Linked DNA regions of Homo sapiens. The protein of the gene in region 3 interacts with the protein of the main gene of each other region in a pairwise test. Each region holds a gene or a part of one and is shown on either strand. Other genes may lie near its edges.

Region 1 (4,012 bases), on a different chromosome or scaffold from region 3:
TTATTCCCCAGTGTCAAAGTCCCCACCTGCCTCCATTCCACCTTCCACAGCGCTGCCAGGTATCTCACTGCCTTACAAATCTGACCACATTACCATCCTACTTAGGAATCCTCACTGGCCCCCCACATCTATAACCATGATCTTTACACTTTCATTTAGCAGTAAAACACTCCCCCCACTTTTTAAAATCAGTATTTCCTTGACACCTAATATATAAAACAAAAACAGCTGCTCTGGAAGCCCTGCCCATTCCACCTCCCCACCAGCTATGCACTCACTCCTACCAGGCACCTAAGAGGAGATCTAGGAAGACAGCTGGACAAACATGGCCTCTAAGATAAAGTCCTTGCACTGTACGCATGACCTCCATAATCTGACCCCAGAATATCTTTCCTGATTCATCTCCCATCATATTCTCTAACACTAACCCCCACTAACAGCAAGGGACACTGCAGTTTCATGGCTGCATGCCTTTCTTCACAGTGGCTCCTCAGCCATTCTGTGCTATTCCATTTTAGCTTGTTGTTCAGGATCCAGTTTGAATGCCATCTCTACTTTGTAAAGTTAGCATCGCTGTTATCTCTTACATTATGGCTGTTTACATTTCTGTGTTCCATTAGAACCCAGCTATCTAAAGAAACTATCAACACAGTAAACAGACAATGTACAAAATGGGAGAAAATATTTGCAAACCATGCAGGTCTAATATCCAGGATCTATAAGGAACTTAAGCAAATTTACAAGAAGAATACAATCCCATTAAAATGGGCAAAGGACATAAACAGACACTTCAAAAGAAGTCATGTATGCAGCCAACAAGCATATGAAAAACTCTATCACTGATTAGAGAAATGCAAATTGAAACCACAGTGAGATAACCATCTCACACCAGTCAAAATGGCTATTATTAAAAACTCAAAATATAACATCCTGGTGAGGCTGCAGAGAAAAGGGAATGCTTATACACTGTTGATGGGAGTGTAAATTAGTTCAACCATTGTGGAAAGCAATCTGGCAATTCCCCAAAGAGCTAAAAATACAACTACCCTTCGACCCAGCAATCCCATTACTGGGTATATGCCCAAAGGAATGTAAATCGTTCTGCCATAAAGACACATGCATGTGTGTGTTCAATGCAGCACTATTCACAATAGCAAAGATGTGAAATCAACCTAAATGCCCATCAATGGTAGACTGGATAAACAAAATGTAAATGTACACCATGGAATACGACACAGCCATACAAAAGAACAAGATCGTGTCCTTTGCAGCAACATAGATGGAGCTGGAGGCCACCATCCTTAGCAAATTAATAAAGGATAGAAAACCAAATCCTGCATGTTCTCACTATAAGAGCTAAATGATGAGAACACATGGAGACACAGAGGGAAACAGACACTGGAGCTTACTGGAGGAGGGGGAGGGCCAGAAAAAAATAACTATTGGGTACTAGGCTTAGTACCTGGGTGATGAAATAATCTGTACAACTAATCCCCATGACACACGTGCCTGTGTAACAGGATGCACATGTACCCCTGAACCTAAAATAAAATTTTTAAAAAAAGAGAGAGGAATGGAGTCTCACTGTGTTGCCCAGGCTGTACTCCCAACTCCTGGGCTTAAGCAAACTTCCTGCCTTAGCCTCCCAAGTAGCCAGCACTACAGGTATGTACCATCACACCCCACTTTAGCCTTTTTATTCTGATGTTTTGACATCTGGGGCCTTACTGACCCTGGGGAGACTGTCCCTCCCACAGTCAGCTAATTCCTAGATATAACCCCTACAAGAGTACCTTCTGTATGCAGACCGACCAACCCAGTGTTCATATTCTTAACTGCCTCCTTTACTGGGCCCTGACACTGGGCCAATATTCCCTAGTCCTAGTCACCCGAGGGTCAGGTACCAGACACCTAGAGACAGCCCTATAGCCCAGAGCCCACTGAAATTATTCAAACTGGCCAATCCCCAACCTGGTTAACCTGCTTTCCCGGTCTTGCCCCGGGGAGGGCATTTCTACCCATGAAAACTACAATAAAGAATTGTGCCCACATTTACCCCTTGCTCCCTCTACCTCCTGATTGACCTGGTGCTTCCCCATGTGGCCCTGCACGGTGTAGCATGCCCTCCTTCTCAGGAATTGTAACAGACTATCTTTCCAGTGGCAGATGTCTTCTGATCTGTTGCCCATACCATATCTGAATAATAATAAAACCTATGTTTTTTTTTTAAAGTTATCTTTGTATTCAGGCAACCCTCAAATAACCACAATTGCTTTTGCAAGCTTTCTCTTTTAAATAAGAACCCACAGTAATGAACAAAAAGCCACTGGAAGACGACTGCCAAATGAGGACATGGAAATCTGCTTTGGGTCTTACATTTAGTAAGTAAATGTATATGGAGAAAAAAATTCCTAGAAAGACTAGTCAGTACTTTAAAATGGTTGTGCATAATTGTTAAAGTGTTTGATTAATTTTAACTTATTTTTATGATCAATTTTAGTATTTGCATGGCATAAAATGGAGTTTCAGGAAGAGAATGGCATTCTATATAACATGCTCAGAAGAGATAAGGGTTTCAACATAAGGTAGCTTGACTTGGAAGTATCACCTAGGGGCCAATTATAGTAACAACAATATTGATAATAATAGACCAATTATATAACCACAGTAAAACCAACAGTTTTCAAAAATCAGTATTTCAACAAAACCAGTATTATTAATTGAGAGCTTAATCATGCAATCCTCACATCAGCCCTAGGTACATATAATAAGTAGTAGAGGCAGGACCCTACCTAAAACCCAAGCTCTTAACACTTGCTGTCTGGAACTTAGTTGGACTCAATATATACATAAATGAATTGTCAAGGCAAGAGGAAAAAACTGGTAAAAGGTGAACTAGGGATGATCTTTATTTAACCTGTTGGTCTCTGAGTCAAACTCCCCCAAGTTAGAAACAACCAAGTTCCTTTGTCATCTTTTTCTATTTCTTCAAGCTCCAGGACAGTAATCCAGATTCCTACAGGATCTCTAAGGGAATGGCTCCTATGAGACAGCCACTGATCTTCTATGATTCTAATCCATTTTTCCCTCATTACAGATGGCAGAGAGAGTTTTCCACATAAATGTTTCTTACCTGCCAAGAGCATGTAGAGCTCCCCCATCTTTGGCTGGAAGTTGATGGCCGCACTGAGAAAATGAAAAGCTGATGCATACTGCTGCATGGTCAAATGGACAAGGCCCAAATTATACAGAATCTTCCAATCAAAGGGTGCCAAGTAGTTGGCTCGTTTCAGGCAGCTGATGGCCTATGAGAGAGAAGGGGCACTCAATGAGAAGGGCAAGCTAAACAGACCCAATAACCACATGTAGAAATACAAACAAAGAACATGAGGGGACACTCACCGCCACATATTTCTTCTTGCCAAAGAAACACATTCCAATGTTATTCCAGAGTGGAGGACTTTCTGGAACAGCACAAGCCACAACTCTGTATTTGGTGAGGGCAACATCAAAGTCCCCGTGGGTCTGCATCATGCTGCCTGCTGCCAAGATGGCCTGAAAACATGGCACAGAGAAAGTCATTCAGTCATTCCCAAAAGGCTGTAGCAGTGGGGCAGCTTTCCTGAGTCTATACTCAGCAGGCCCATCAGCATAGATGGGACTGGAAAATTTCTTCCAGGGACATAAATATATCCAACCTATTGGGACAAATGTTCCTGAGGAATGTCCTTGCACTCTACACTGTGGCTCTCTGGCACAGCACAAAAAAAAAAAAAAAAAAAAAAAAAAAAAAAGATAAAATGTTACTTGCTTTACCCATCTGTTTCCTACTTCTAGCCAGGAAAGTCAGTATTTCAGAATGAATACCAGAGCCCTTTAAGTAAAAACTTCCTTTAATCTGTTCTCTGCAGCCCCTATTTGGTATACCAAGTGTTCTAGATACCTGAAATACACCTGTACGTGGCTACTTAAGGTAAATTTCTTTCTACCGTAGAACAGAGGGCGAGTCAGC
Region 2 (4,012 bases), on a different chromosome or scaffold from region 3:
AAGGACCATGCCTCTCAGCCCTTGAGTGCTTCTCCTAACAGTTTCCAGACTGACCTTCTTCTATGTGATATGTCCACTCTACATGTCCTCCTGAACAGTGTACACAAGACAGAACCATGAGGTATCCACTCAGTGCTGCACACGGATGCAAGATGGTACTTCCCAGGGCCTGCAGCCACTTCCTTCACCCTCACCTCCAAGGACACACACTGTTAGGCTTTGGGTTCCCCTATCTGTGCCGTTTTTATTTCCTTGTCTCTTTTGTCATCAATATAATCATTTGAGGAAGTAAAGAAAGGACACCATATATTCCTACAAATGGATAGGCTGAGAGTAAATCAACTTGGTATTTGTGAACATGAATGATAAAAGGCAAAAACTTCTAGCTGAAATGTAGCACTCCTTCAATTACAAAGGCAGACAATAAGCCCTGGAGTTTTAGCAGGAACAGCAACAGGTATTTTCCAAAGCATTAGAGTGTCACAAAAAATCTCGTCACTACTCCCAAATGAATTACCAGAGCCACAGCTCAATCCGGTTACTAAGCTAATAAATGGGACTATCACCAATTTGGTTCAATACAGTATTTTAATAACTGTATTTCAAAATAATTTGTTCTCTTCTTCATCTATTTATTTCCTTTAAAGTGCTGTTAAGAGGCCCCCAGAGGCCAAGCAAACGTGAAAATTTAAGACGCCCCCTCTCCCACCAGAGTCTATACTTTGCATCACTTTAGCAGTTTCAGGCTGTCCTTCTAAACAGTTTCAGACACTTTTAACAATTTGCAACAAAAGTGTAAGCCGCAAATAGGATGTTACTTCTCATAAGTAGCACCTTTCTATTTCTGCTATTTACAAGTAGTATTTTTTTTTCTCTTTTTTCGGACATGGAGTCTTGCTCTGTCGCCCAGCCTGAAGTGCACTGGAGCGATCTCAGCTCACTGCAACCTCCACCTCCTGGTTCAAGTGATTCTCCTGCCTCAGCCTCCCGAGTAGCTGGGGATACAGGCTCCTGCCACCACACCCAGCTAATTTTGCATTTTTAGTAGAGACAGGGGTTGCCCCATCTTGGCCAGGCTGGTCTCAAACTCCTGACCTCAGGCAATCCACCCACCTCGGCCTCCCAAAGCGCTAGGATTACAGGTGTGAGCCACCGCACCTGGCCTCACAAGTAGTACTTTTCTAAAGTTACTGCCAGAGAAACGTTAACTACATATAGAGTACAGGAATCCCAACAAAATGCATTGTACTCAGTATCATTACCACAGAACCTGCTGGCACTTAGATCATAAGCGCAGAAGGTTAATCTTTGAAACAAGTCATACTTCACTGACCATGTTTCATCAATTCTAAGGCACACTTTTAAATGTCTGAAGTGAAAAGCATCCTTCACTGATGGGGTAAGAAAGCAGCGTGCCAGAAGGCACTGGGAGCATCTGTAGTGGTATAACACACTGCTGCATTTTAGATTCAACAGACTATAAGCACCTCATTTTTCTTTTTTCTTTTTTTCTGAGATGGAGTCTCGCTGTGTCACCCAGGCTGGAGTGCAGTGGCGCGATCTCGGCTCACTGCAAGCTCCGCCCCCTGGGTTCACGCCATTCTCCTGCCTTAGCCTCCCAAGTGGCTGAGAATACAGGTGCCCGCCACTACGCCCAGCTAATTCTTTGTATATTTAGTAGAGACGGGGTTTCACAGTGTTAGCCAGGATGGTCTCGATCTCCTGACCTCGTGATCCACCCGCCTCGGCCTCCCAAAGTGCTGGGATTACAGGCGTCAGCCACTGCGCCTGGCTATAAGCACCTCATTTTACCTTTTATTGTGTTTTGCTTTATTGCACTCAGCAGGTACTATGTTTTTCACAAGTTGAAGATCTGTGGCAACCCTGTATGAAGAAAGCAAGCCTATTGGTGCCAATTTTCCAAAAACAGGAGCTCACTTTGTGTCTGTGTTACATTTTGGTAATTCTTCACTATTTCAAACTTTGTCATTATTATGTCTGTTACGGGGATCTGTGATCAGTGATCTTTGATGTTCAGGTCAGGAACAGTGATTCATATGGGTAATCCCAACACTTCGGAAGGACGAGGCAGGAAGGCGGCTTGAAAGGATTCACCATTCTGGAAAGGAACTTAAGAGACAGCCGAGGCAACATAATGAGACCTCACTTCTACAAAACTTTTTCAAAATTAGCTGGGCATGCTGGCACATCCCTGTAGTCCCAGTTACTCAGGGGGCTGAGGTGGGAGAACCACTTTAGCCCAAGAGGTCAAGAGTGCAGTGAGCTATGATCTCACCACTGCATCCCAACCTGAGCAACAGAATGAGACCCTGTCTCTCAAAAACATAGCCAAGGCCAGGAACAGTGGATCATGCCTGAGGCTGAGGCAGGAGGACCACTTGAGGCCAGGAGTTTGAGACCTGCCTGGATAACATAGGGAGACTTCATCTCTTTAAAAAAAAACAAAAAAGGGCTGGGTGCGGTGGCTCATGCCTGTAATCCCAGTACTCTGGGAGGCCAAGGTGGGTGGATTATTTGAGGTCAGGAGTTCAAGACCAGCCTGGCCAATACGGCGAAACCCTGTCTCTACTAAAAATACAAAAATTAGCCGGGCGTGGTGGCTCACGTCTGTAGTCCCAACTACTTGGTAGGCTGAGGCAAGAGAATCACTTGAACCCGGGAGGCAGAGGTTGCAGTGAGCCAAGATCGCGCCACTGCACTCTAGCCTGGGCGACAGAGCGACTCCATCTCAAAAAAAAAAAAAAAAAGAAAAGAAAAGAAAAAAACAAGTTAGCCAAGTTGTAAATGCAAAGCAGAAGTTTCTTTCCAATTTTTGAAATTAAAAAAATACATACACAAATTTTTGAAATTTTAAATCACCTCTCAGAACAAAGGAAAACTTAAAGGCAATTAAAAAGTGCTACTCCAGTGAACACATGAATAAGAAAATGGCCAGGTCCGTTGGCTCACACCTGTAATCCCAACACTTTGGGAGGCCAAGGCGGGCGGATCACTTGAGGTCAGGAGTTCGAGACCAGCCTGGTCAACATGGTGAAACCTTACCTCTACTAATAATACAAAAATTAGCTGGACACATGCTGCACACCTGTTATCCCAGCTACTCGGGAGGTTGAGGCAAGAGAATTGCTTGCACCCAGGAGGCAGAGGTTGCAGTGAGCCATGATCATACCACTGCACTCCAACCTGGGCAATAGTCTCAAAAAAAGAGGGAGGGAGGGAAAGAAAGTGAAACAGCCTTATTGGTGATATGTGGAAAGTATGAGTGGTCTGATTAGATCAAACCAGCCACAACATTCCCTTAAACTGAAGCCTAATCGAGAACCAGGCCCAAGTTTTCTTCAATTCTATGAAGGCTGAGAGAGGTGAGGAAGATGCAGAAGAAAAGTTGGAGCCAGGCACGGCAGCTCACCCCTGTAATCCCAGCACTTTGAGAGGCTGAGGCAGGTGGATCACCTGAGGTCAGAAGTCCCAGCCTAGCTAACATTTAGTAGAGCCCGTCTCTACTAAAAATACAAAAAATTAGCTGTATGTGGTGGCAGCTGCCTGTACTCCCAGCTACTACGGAGGCTGAGGCAGGAGAATCGCTTGAACCCGGGAGGTGGAGGTTGCAGTGAGCCGAGATCACGCCATTGCTCTCCAGCTTGGGCAACAAGAGTGAAAATCCATCTCAAAAAAAAAAAAAAAAAAAAAAAAAAAGTTGGAAGCAGCAGAGGCTGGTTCATGAGGTTTAAGGAAAGAAGCTGTCCCCATAACACGAAAGTACAAGGTGAAGCAGCAAGTGCTACCTAACAGAAAAGCAACACCAGGTTATCCAGGTCTAGCTAAGATCATTGATGAAGGCAGCGAGACGAAAAAGCAGATTTTCAATATAGACAAAAGACTTCCTTTGGAAGGAGATGACATCTAGGACTTTCATACCTAGAGAGAACTCAGTGCTTAGTTTCAAAGGGCAAGCTGGCTCTCTTGTTAGGGGCAAATGTCACTGGTGACT
Region 3 (4,012 bases):
ATGAGCAGCTAAGGACGGTCCTGGGTGCTCACTGAAGTCAGGCTTGAAACGGCTGTTCCCAAGGTGGCTTGAGGTAGAGGAGGGGCTCAGGGCCCTCTCCGATGCCCCCTTCCCCATCCCCATCTGACGTCCCCCTCCTGGAGATGAAGGGCTTCTTCCCTGTACCCCAAGGGGCGGCCTGCCTGGCCCCTGGATAAACGCTGCTTGTGTTTGTGCGGCCGACATCTCGCCAGGTCACGAGCATGATTTCCGAGTTAAGCACCTGTCCGAGGCCTTGAACGACAAGCACGGGCCGCTGGCCGGTGAGTACCGCAGCCCAGCCCGAGGGCAGCCGCTGACACTGCCTTCGCAGCGGTCCCCGGATGGCCTGCTCCTGCCTGGCCCAGCTGGGCCCACTCTGCTCTGAGGATGGGCCAGGCCTATGCGCCTCTCTCTCCACTCTCTCTCTTTTGGGCCTAGGTCTCCTTGCCTCTCTCCAGATGGGAGTGCGTGCCTGTCTGTCAGGCCTGGGCCAAGGGGAGAAGCCGCTGCTCCTCGGAAAGCAGGCAGAGAGGGAAGGTGGCTCCCTTGAGGGCAGGGAGCCCTGACGTCCGCCTCCTGCAACAATTCAGAGCTCTGATCCCCTCGGAGCCCATCCCTTGGCACATAGGACCAGGCAGTTCTGCCGCCGGTTTTGCCTGCAGGCGCCCCCGCCGTGGCCTCCAGTAATAGGGTCTGGCCTCCTCCTGGGGCAGCTGGCAACCCCTCCTCTCTGGGACTTACCAGCCTCTTAGATTTTGACCCCATGCCAGCCAGCCTCAGAAGCTGCAGCCAACCACCCTCTTAGATGTTCCAGAAGCCCTGACTGGGCTGGTCACTTCCTTCACAGGCCCCGCATTTGCCCACATGGATGACCCCAGTGCCAGCCTCCTTGAGGTGGCACAGCCACCTGCCCACCCTGGGCTGCCCTCTTTCAGGTACAACTCAGAATGCTCAGTCCTGGGGTCAAACCACCTTATCCAGGACGCTGATTCAGGAATCTTCCCTCCTTATCTTTCCATCCGTCACTCTCCTGCCTCTGGTGTCTGATCCCACTGTCTGCGCAGAGCCGAGAATGAAGCCAGAACAAAGGCTGGGCTCAGCTCCTTTTATTCCCCTCGAACCTGGCGGGGCCTGCTGGCTCCCTTGCAGCTTTCTGCCAGAACAGTCAGCCTCTTCCCCATCCTCTGCCAGTGTGGGGTACAGGCCAGGAGCTGGGGGACCCACGCCGCCCCCAGCCAGGAGTGTGGCTGGCCCCAGACCAGCAGCTCAAGAGTTGTGCCATCCCCCAGGGAGAGATGACATGCTGGACGTGGAGACCGATGCCTACATCCACTGCGTCAGTGCCTTCGTCAAGCTGGCGCAGAGCGAGTACCAGCTGCTGGCCGACATCATCCCCGAGCACCACCAGAAGAAGACCTTCGACTCCCTGATACAGGTCCCGCCCCGCCCCGGGGGCTCTGCAGCCAGCCCCAGCAAGAGCTGTCACAACAGACTCTTGCAGCCCTCAACTCCACCCACCACCACCACCTCGTGCCCTGGGGACCGGTCCTGGGTGGACGCTCACCACCTCCCCGTCACCCCTCTTCCTGCACACTGGCCCCCCTACATACTGCAAGGATCCCCCACTAGCCCAGAACTAGCTCCCACCGCCCCACCCTTCCCTGAACTGTCTCCCTGCCCCCTCAGGATGCCCTGGATGGGCTGATGCTTGAAGGGGAGAACATCGTGTCTGCTGCCCGGAAGGCCATTGTGCGACACGACTTCTCCACGGTGCTCACCGTCTTCCCCATCCTGCGACACCTCAAGCAGACCAAGCCTGAGTTTGACCAGGTGCTCCAGGTATGTGGGCGAGGGGCCCTCAAAAACACAGCCAGGAGGCATCGTGCTGCCGGGTGTGGCCGCCCCATCCCTCCCTGGGAGAACCCCATTCTCTGTCCCACACTTCTGCTCTGAAGGTGCATGGAAGCAGCTTAGGAAGGGCCCTGGGTGAGTGAGATGCTCACAGAGCGACTGGAGGTGAGCTGGGGGCTCCCCTGTGCTTCCTCAGGGCACGGCTGCCAGCACAAAGAACAAGCTGCCTGGCCTCATCACATCCATGGAGACCATCGGTGCCAAAGCGCTGGAGGACTTCGCAGACAACATCAAGGTCCCTGCTGTCCTCCCCTTTCTCCCTCCCTCCCGGCCCAGCACCACAGTGACCTGGCCCTGGGGGACTCTCAGAGCAGGCCTCCAAGAGGGTGCGTTGTCCCGGGGCAGCCAGCTGCGCCACTGGCCTGTCAGCACCCATGTGCCTTCCTTTCCTTCCTGGGGCCTCCAAGCCCTCTGAAGTGGGAAGGGCCTCTCCCCCTTGGTCCAGCCTGGCTCAGCCTTTGTGCCTGAGAGGTGTCCTAGCACCCGTCTGCCAGGAGGCGGCACCATGAGCAGGTGCACTGGGGCATGGGGTGGGCTGGGGGCTGCTTCAGGGAACCAGAGGCTGTTTTTCCACAGAATGACCCGGACAAGGAGTACAACATGCCGAAGGACGGCACCGTACACGAGCTCACCAGCAATGTGGGTGCTGCCTGAGGACACCAGGGAGAGGGGAGGAAGGAGGGCCCAGGCCCAGGCCCAGGGCCAGGCAGAGTACTGGTGGAAGGGACTCAGCCTGGCCCAGAGCCGCTCGCACCTTTGTGAGCAGTCCTGGGTGGCAGGATGGACAGTGACATGTTTAGTGTCTCTAGCAGACAGGGCCTTTCCTGGCAGGCTAGAGTGAAAATGAAGTTTCCAGCCGCGCTCTTCACTGGGCGGATCCCAGCCCTGGGCTGGCCCTGGGCACTCAGAGGGGTCGCTGTGGGAGGCCGTCGGCCGGGCCTGCCACTTGCCCTTCTGCACCGTTTTCTTCCCACCCAGGCCATCCTCTTCCTGCAGCAGCTTTTGGACTTCCAGGAGACGGCAGGCGCCATGCTGGCCTCCCAAGGTACTGGTACCTCCCAGTTGGGCCCCCTGCCCCACTCGCCTCCTTGCCTGGAGACATGGGGTTAGAGGGCAGGTAGCAGTGAGGAGGTATCTCCAGTCTGTGGAGGGGTTGAGGTGTGCTCAGCAGAGGGTCCCTGGGGCTGAGCATCAGGAGAGCAAGGTTTGCCTGCACCTTTCAAGACCAGACACTGGACCTCTGGCCCCTCCCTCAGCCCCTTTGACCGTCCTCGCCCTGGAAGCAGTGTCCTCACTCTGGGAGCGGTGCTGGTTGGTTGGAAGGTGTCCTTTCTGCCCCTGCCCCCCTCCCAAATCCTTCTCTCGTGTCTGCCTGCTCTCCTAATCAGGCTCGCTCAGCTGGCCTTCAGAGGGTAGCAAGTGTCTCAGGGCCCGCTGGGCGTCTTCCTGCTGGCCCTGCCCTGGGACTGGAGCTCAGGGGGTTGGCCTGTAAGCAAGAGCACCTTTCTGGGTCATTCCAAGCACTGAGGTCCCTGGGCCCTCTCCTCCCGTCCCATTTTGGGGGCAAGGAGCCTGTGGGCAGCCTCCAGCCTGCAGTTCTCAGCTCTCTACTTTCCAGGGTGTTCCCTGGTCCTCAGAGGGTCCCGCCTGCTGTGTCTTGCTATCTGTGTTTTGGCTGTCGTGGGGAGAGGTCTGCTTAATTCGGGTTGACATGCCGTTTCTAACCTGTTTTTTGCACTTTGCATCTTTCTCCCTCCTTTGTCTCTCCCTCTGTCCCCTCTGTGTGCACTGCCTTTCACTCCGTAGTTCTTGGGGACACATACAATATTCCTTTAGACCCCCGAGGTAAGCAGTGCGGTTCTGCAGCCCCCTCCTGTCCCTCTGAAGCTTGGTGGGTGAGGTTCCCTGGGGACTGACTCTCAGTACCTACTGGGGAGCCTGAGTCAGAGGGGACATGAGTTTTCTCGGGGTGCTCTCAACTCTCTCTGCTCCCTTCAAGGCCACTCTGTCTCTGAGCTTATCCGCAGCACCTGCCCAGGCTAGAGCCCTGGATACACCCCCTAGGCTCGCCCGGCCTCCC
Region 4 (4,012 bases), on a different chromosome or scaffold from region 3:
GTTGCCCAGGCTGGAGTGCAGTGGCACGATCTTGGCTCAGTGCAAGCTCCGCCTCCCAGGTTCACGCCATTCTCCTGCCTCAGCCTCCCGAGTAGCTGGGACTACAGGCGCCTGCCACCATGCCTGGCTAATTTTTTGTATTTTTAGTAGAGACGGGGTTTCACCGTGTTAGCCAGGATGGTCTCAATCTCCTGACCTCGTGATCCACCCGCCTCGGCCTCCCAAAGTCCTGGGATTACAGGTGTGAGCCACTGTGCCCAGCCTTGGAATATGTGTTTAGTTACTTCATATATTATTTGGTATCAAGAACTGCCGATTTTTAGCCTAAGCCAGAATTTAAAAGTACATACAAACCTCCATACTCATTTTCTCCGAGTTGTTTCTAAAGAACGGACTATACGTTTCTTCTAAGCTGTTAAGCACCTCTGGTTCACACAAACGTCCTGTTTCATATACCCAACTACTCTGCATATCAAGCTGCTTGGCAGCATGAATACTATTCTGCTGCTGTTGAAATTGCAACCTGTTTAAATGAACACCACTATCTGCATTTCTACTTGCAGGTGGTCGATAAATTTCAATAGAAGGGCGAGAAGAACCATATGTAAGTGTCACTGTAGGTTTTTTCTGAGATAAGGGATTCTCCTGCACAAAGTTGAGGTCTTCGTCAATGAGATCATCTGGTTCTGGCTTAATATCAATCACATCTTCAGAGGGTGCTGGCTCCCTCAAAGGTTTCACTGTTGACATTAGTCGGGTTGCAGCTCCATCATCGTAAGTCTGTCTATTTAAAAGAACAACAAAATGTATTACAGCCAAATTAGGGCAATTATCACCAAATCTTTAAAGAATGTTTACTTGAAAAATTTCAATGAAAAAACTGAGGATACTCCCTTTACATATTCCATTCAAAACTGCTTTGAAATTGCACTTTCTTTCAACTTTGATTTACTAAATTTGTGATAAAAGATAATCATACTTAGATCTTATCCATTATTTTATTCAAAAAACTACTCACGATCACTTCATTGTTTCTAAAAATTGCTGAGAACAGCAAACTGAAAGATATAAAAACTAATATAAATGTCACATACACAGAGCCATCTGCCCCCAGCAGGTCTACACCAGACTCTTACCTGACATTTGTGGTTTTTGACTCCTGCGAACTTGTAGAAACTCTGGAATCTCTTTTTTCAGGTCTCGCGCTAGGAATGGCAAGTGGTGGCACTGCAGCTTCATGCCTCCTCTCATCTCCCCGACTGAAATTGCTCTTGTTTGAAGGCACGTTACTATCAAAGATGTTGGTATCAGAAGACTTCAGACTAGAGGGTTCTGAAAAGAAAAATACAGTCCTTTTAATCTATTTTTATTTCTTATTTTTATTTATTTATTTATTTTTGAGATGGAGTCTCGCTCTGTCGCCAGGCTGGAGGGCAGTGGCGCGTTCTCGGCTCCCTGCAACCTCCAAATCCCTGGTTCAAGCGATTCTCCTGCCCCGGCCTCCCAAGTAGCTGGGATTACAGGCATGTGCCACGATGCCTGGCTAATTTTTGTATTTTTAGTAGAGACGGAGATTCACCATGTTGGTTGGCCAAGATGGTCTCCATCTCCTGAGCCCATGATCCGCCCACCTTGGCCTCCCAAAATGCTGGGATTACAGGCGTGAGCCACCGTGCCCGGCCATCTATTTTTATTACTTTAAGTCGTTTCCTTCCTCATCACCAATTCAAAAGCAGTATGTTTATTGTAGAAAATTTTAAAAATATAATAAAAATCACCAATTATCTCAAAGGTGATTTTTCGGGGGAAGAGCATATATACACATTTTTTAAAACATGTATCTTATGCGTGTATATTCTGTTATTCTTCCACAACATTATTTTTAATAGTTAAATATTATTCCACACATGGTAATACAACAATTTCGTTTATTATGACTGAACTTTTAAATTGTTTTCAATTATAAAATACTGAAATATCCTTGAGGCTAAATCTTTGCACATATATGTAATTATTTCCTTCGGATAAAGTGCACTGCTCCCTCTCCCACACTTAAATTATCTTTGAATTATGTTAAATTTACTGCTCTTAAGTTCATAAAAGTATGTGCTTTCTAAAAAAGTTCAAATGAACCGTTTTGAAATTGATGGGTTTTTCCCAAAGCACTATGACTTTAGAAAGAAACAAATCATATGCCATAGCAAGCAGAAATTAAAAAAAAAAGTTATGAATCTTACCAGTTGTAACAGAGCGAAGTTTATCTAATACACCATGAAGCCTGAGGAAAAAAACAAAAAACAAAAATAAACCTTCTGTTAAGAAAGATTTCATTTCAACTGTCACTCTAAATTTATGACATTATATTCAGAGATAATTTTTTAAATTTTTTTATATTTTTATTATTTTTAAATAGAGATGGGGTTTCACTGTGTTGTCCAGGCTGGTCTTGAAGTCCTGGACTTGAGAGAACCACCTGCCTCAGCCTCCCAAAGTGTTGAGATTACGGGCGTGAGCCACCGCACCTAGCTGAGATAAATACTGATAAACTGTATTTAGTGAATAAATGGTATGAACTTTCAAACTTCACATTTTTAAAAAAGGGCTTTGTATAAATCCTACAGAAGTCAATAAAAAATTGTATTTTTTTCTTCACTGTTTTCAACATCTAGCCTCTGCAAAAATATGGGAAAGAATATCATCTGACCAGTCTTAGTCTACAAAATATGTCACCCTGTTTGTAAGTACTAAAGATTTACTGTAGCTTACAGTAAAACAAGTATCATAAACATGTAATATTGCTTATTATTACCACCATTTAAGCAGCTTATATTAACTGCTTAAACTAGATGGTGTCTTGGACAACTTAATTCTGAGAGGTTAAAACAAGTTATAATCTCAAACTATGCTATATCATTTCACTCTATTACTTTCAAAACTGATGCTGTAAGGCTGTAATCTTGCTTGTAACATAACCTGTTTTGGTAGTTATAAATGAGGTACTTTGCCTTACATCCCTTCCCAGTACCTCTCAAAATATGCCAGAAACCTCATGTTTCAATGAGAACCCTAGTCACATGCTACTGTCCCCACGGACACAATTACTTCAAGGCTCCAAATAATCACAATAGTCTGTTTGGGGCTGGTGTTAATGAACACTAACTTAAGAAAGCAAAGTGCCAAAATGGGGACATCACCCTTTGCTTCACTACATGTTAAAGAACTCAATTTATGGCCAGATGAGAATGTTGAATTAATTTGGTTTTAAATTCATTTGGTAGTCTGTTTTAAAAATCTAAGTATTCTATCAAGTTATCGGAGAAAAGGATCTACTCGGTCGCTTTAGAAAAAAAAATAGTACTCACAATAATGGTAATTTTCCCAGTCAAAAGACCCACAGTCTTTTTTTGTGGGGGGCTGGGAGGGAATAACCTCTGGGGACAAATTGTAACAAATGGGTTGGGTCACCCACAGTGAGGCAGCAGTGTATCATAACAACTGATGACCACTATACAATGTTCTTCAAATTTGTGCAATGTATAAACCCAGAGAATTCTGTGCAGAATTTCAAGACGGTTGATAAGCATACAGTTGCCTACTTGGGCAAAAACACCTTGAAGACGACCTTTGGTATAAAGGCAAGAACTTAACCAGGCTCATCTCCCCACTCAGTGCCTCCTCTTGCACTCAAATTCGGCAGGCCACTTGCTCACTTCTGCTACATCATCACCTTTCACGGTAACTGGTAGTTCCTAGCCTGAGAAGCCTAATAAAGTATTTCGTCTGTCTATTCTCAGCTACATCATTATCCTCCAGCCCTCATCCTCACTTTACCTCAAACCTGGTACCAGGACCTAGCATCTTAAGTTGAATCTTACTCTTCTAGTCAGTATTCTCAACTAAAGGCATATAACAGTAATTTATGTATAAAAGCAAAGTTGCCTATTTTAAAATTCCAAACTTAAAAAAACTTATAATCTCAAAATATGCTGTAACATTACACTACAATTATTAC

The links.
Region 1: the proteins of EXOC7 (region 3) and BBS4 interact in a two-hybrid assay, tested with the Homo sapiens proteins (one study listed by BioGRID and IntAct).
Region 2: the proteins of EXOC7 (region 3) and PKNOX1 interact in a two-hybrid assay, tested with the Homo sapiens proteins (one large-scale study listed by BioGRID and IntAct).
Region 4: the proteins of EXOC7 (region 3) and ZC3H14 interact in a two-hybrid assay, tested with the Homo sapiens proteins (one large-scale study listed by BioGRID and IntAct).

Annotation. Positions count from the first base shown.
Region 1 is NC_000015.10:72,730,848-72,734,859, reverse strand, and holds part of BBS4 (BBSome complex member BBS4), read right to left. Parts: intron 3,556-4,012; coding exon 3,403-3,555; intron 3,306-3,402; coding exon 3,134-3,305; intron 1-3,133.
Region 2 is NC_000021.9:42,977,243-42,981,254, reverse strand, and holds part of PKNOX1 (homeobox protein PKNOX1), read right to left. Parts: intron 1-4,012. UniProt on the Homo sapiens protein: Activates transcription in the presence of PBX1A and HOXA1.
Region 3 is NC_000017.11:76,086,619-76,090,630, reverse strand, and holds part of EXOC7 (exocyst complex component 7), read left to right. Parts: intron 1-149; coding exon of another isoform or gene 150-302; intron 303-459; coding exon of another isoform or gene 460-587; exon of another isoform or gene 588-889; coding exon of another isoform or gene 890-956; intron 957-1,310; coding exon 1,311-1,456; intron 1,457-1,707; coding exon 1,708-1,860; intron 1,861-2,068; coding exon 2,069-2,167; intron 2,168-2,508; coding exon 2,509-2,571; intron 2,572-2,910; coding exon 2,911-2,977; intron 2,978-3,738; coding exon of another isoform or gene 3,739-3,777; intron 3,778-4,012. UniProt on the Homo sapiens protein: Component of the exocyst complex involved in the docking of exocytic vesicles with fusion sites on the plasma membrane.
Region 4 is NC_000014.9:88,569,350-88,573,361, reverse strand, and holds part of ZC3H14 (zinc finger CCCH domain-containing protein 14), read right to left. Parts: intron 2,279-4,012; coding exon 2,238-2,278; intron 1,333-2,237; coding exon 1,137-1,332; intron 785-1,136; coding exon 355-784; intron 1-354. UniProt on the Homo sapiens protein: RNA-binding protein involved in the biogenesis of circular RNAs (circRNAs), which are produced by back-splicing circularization of pre-mRNAs.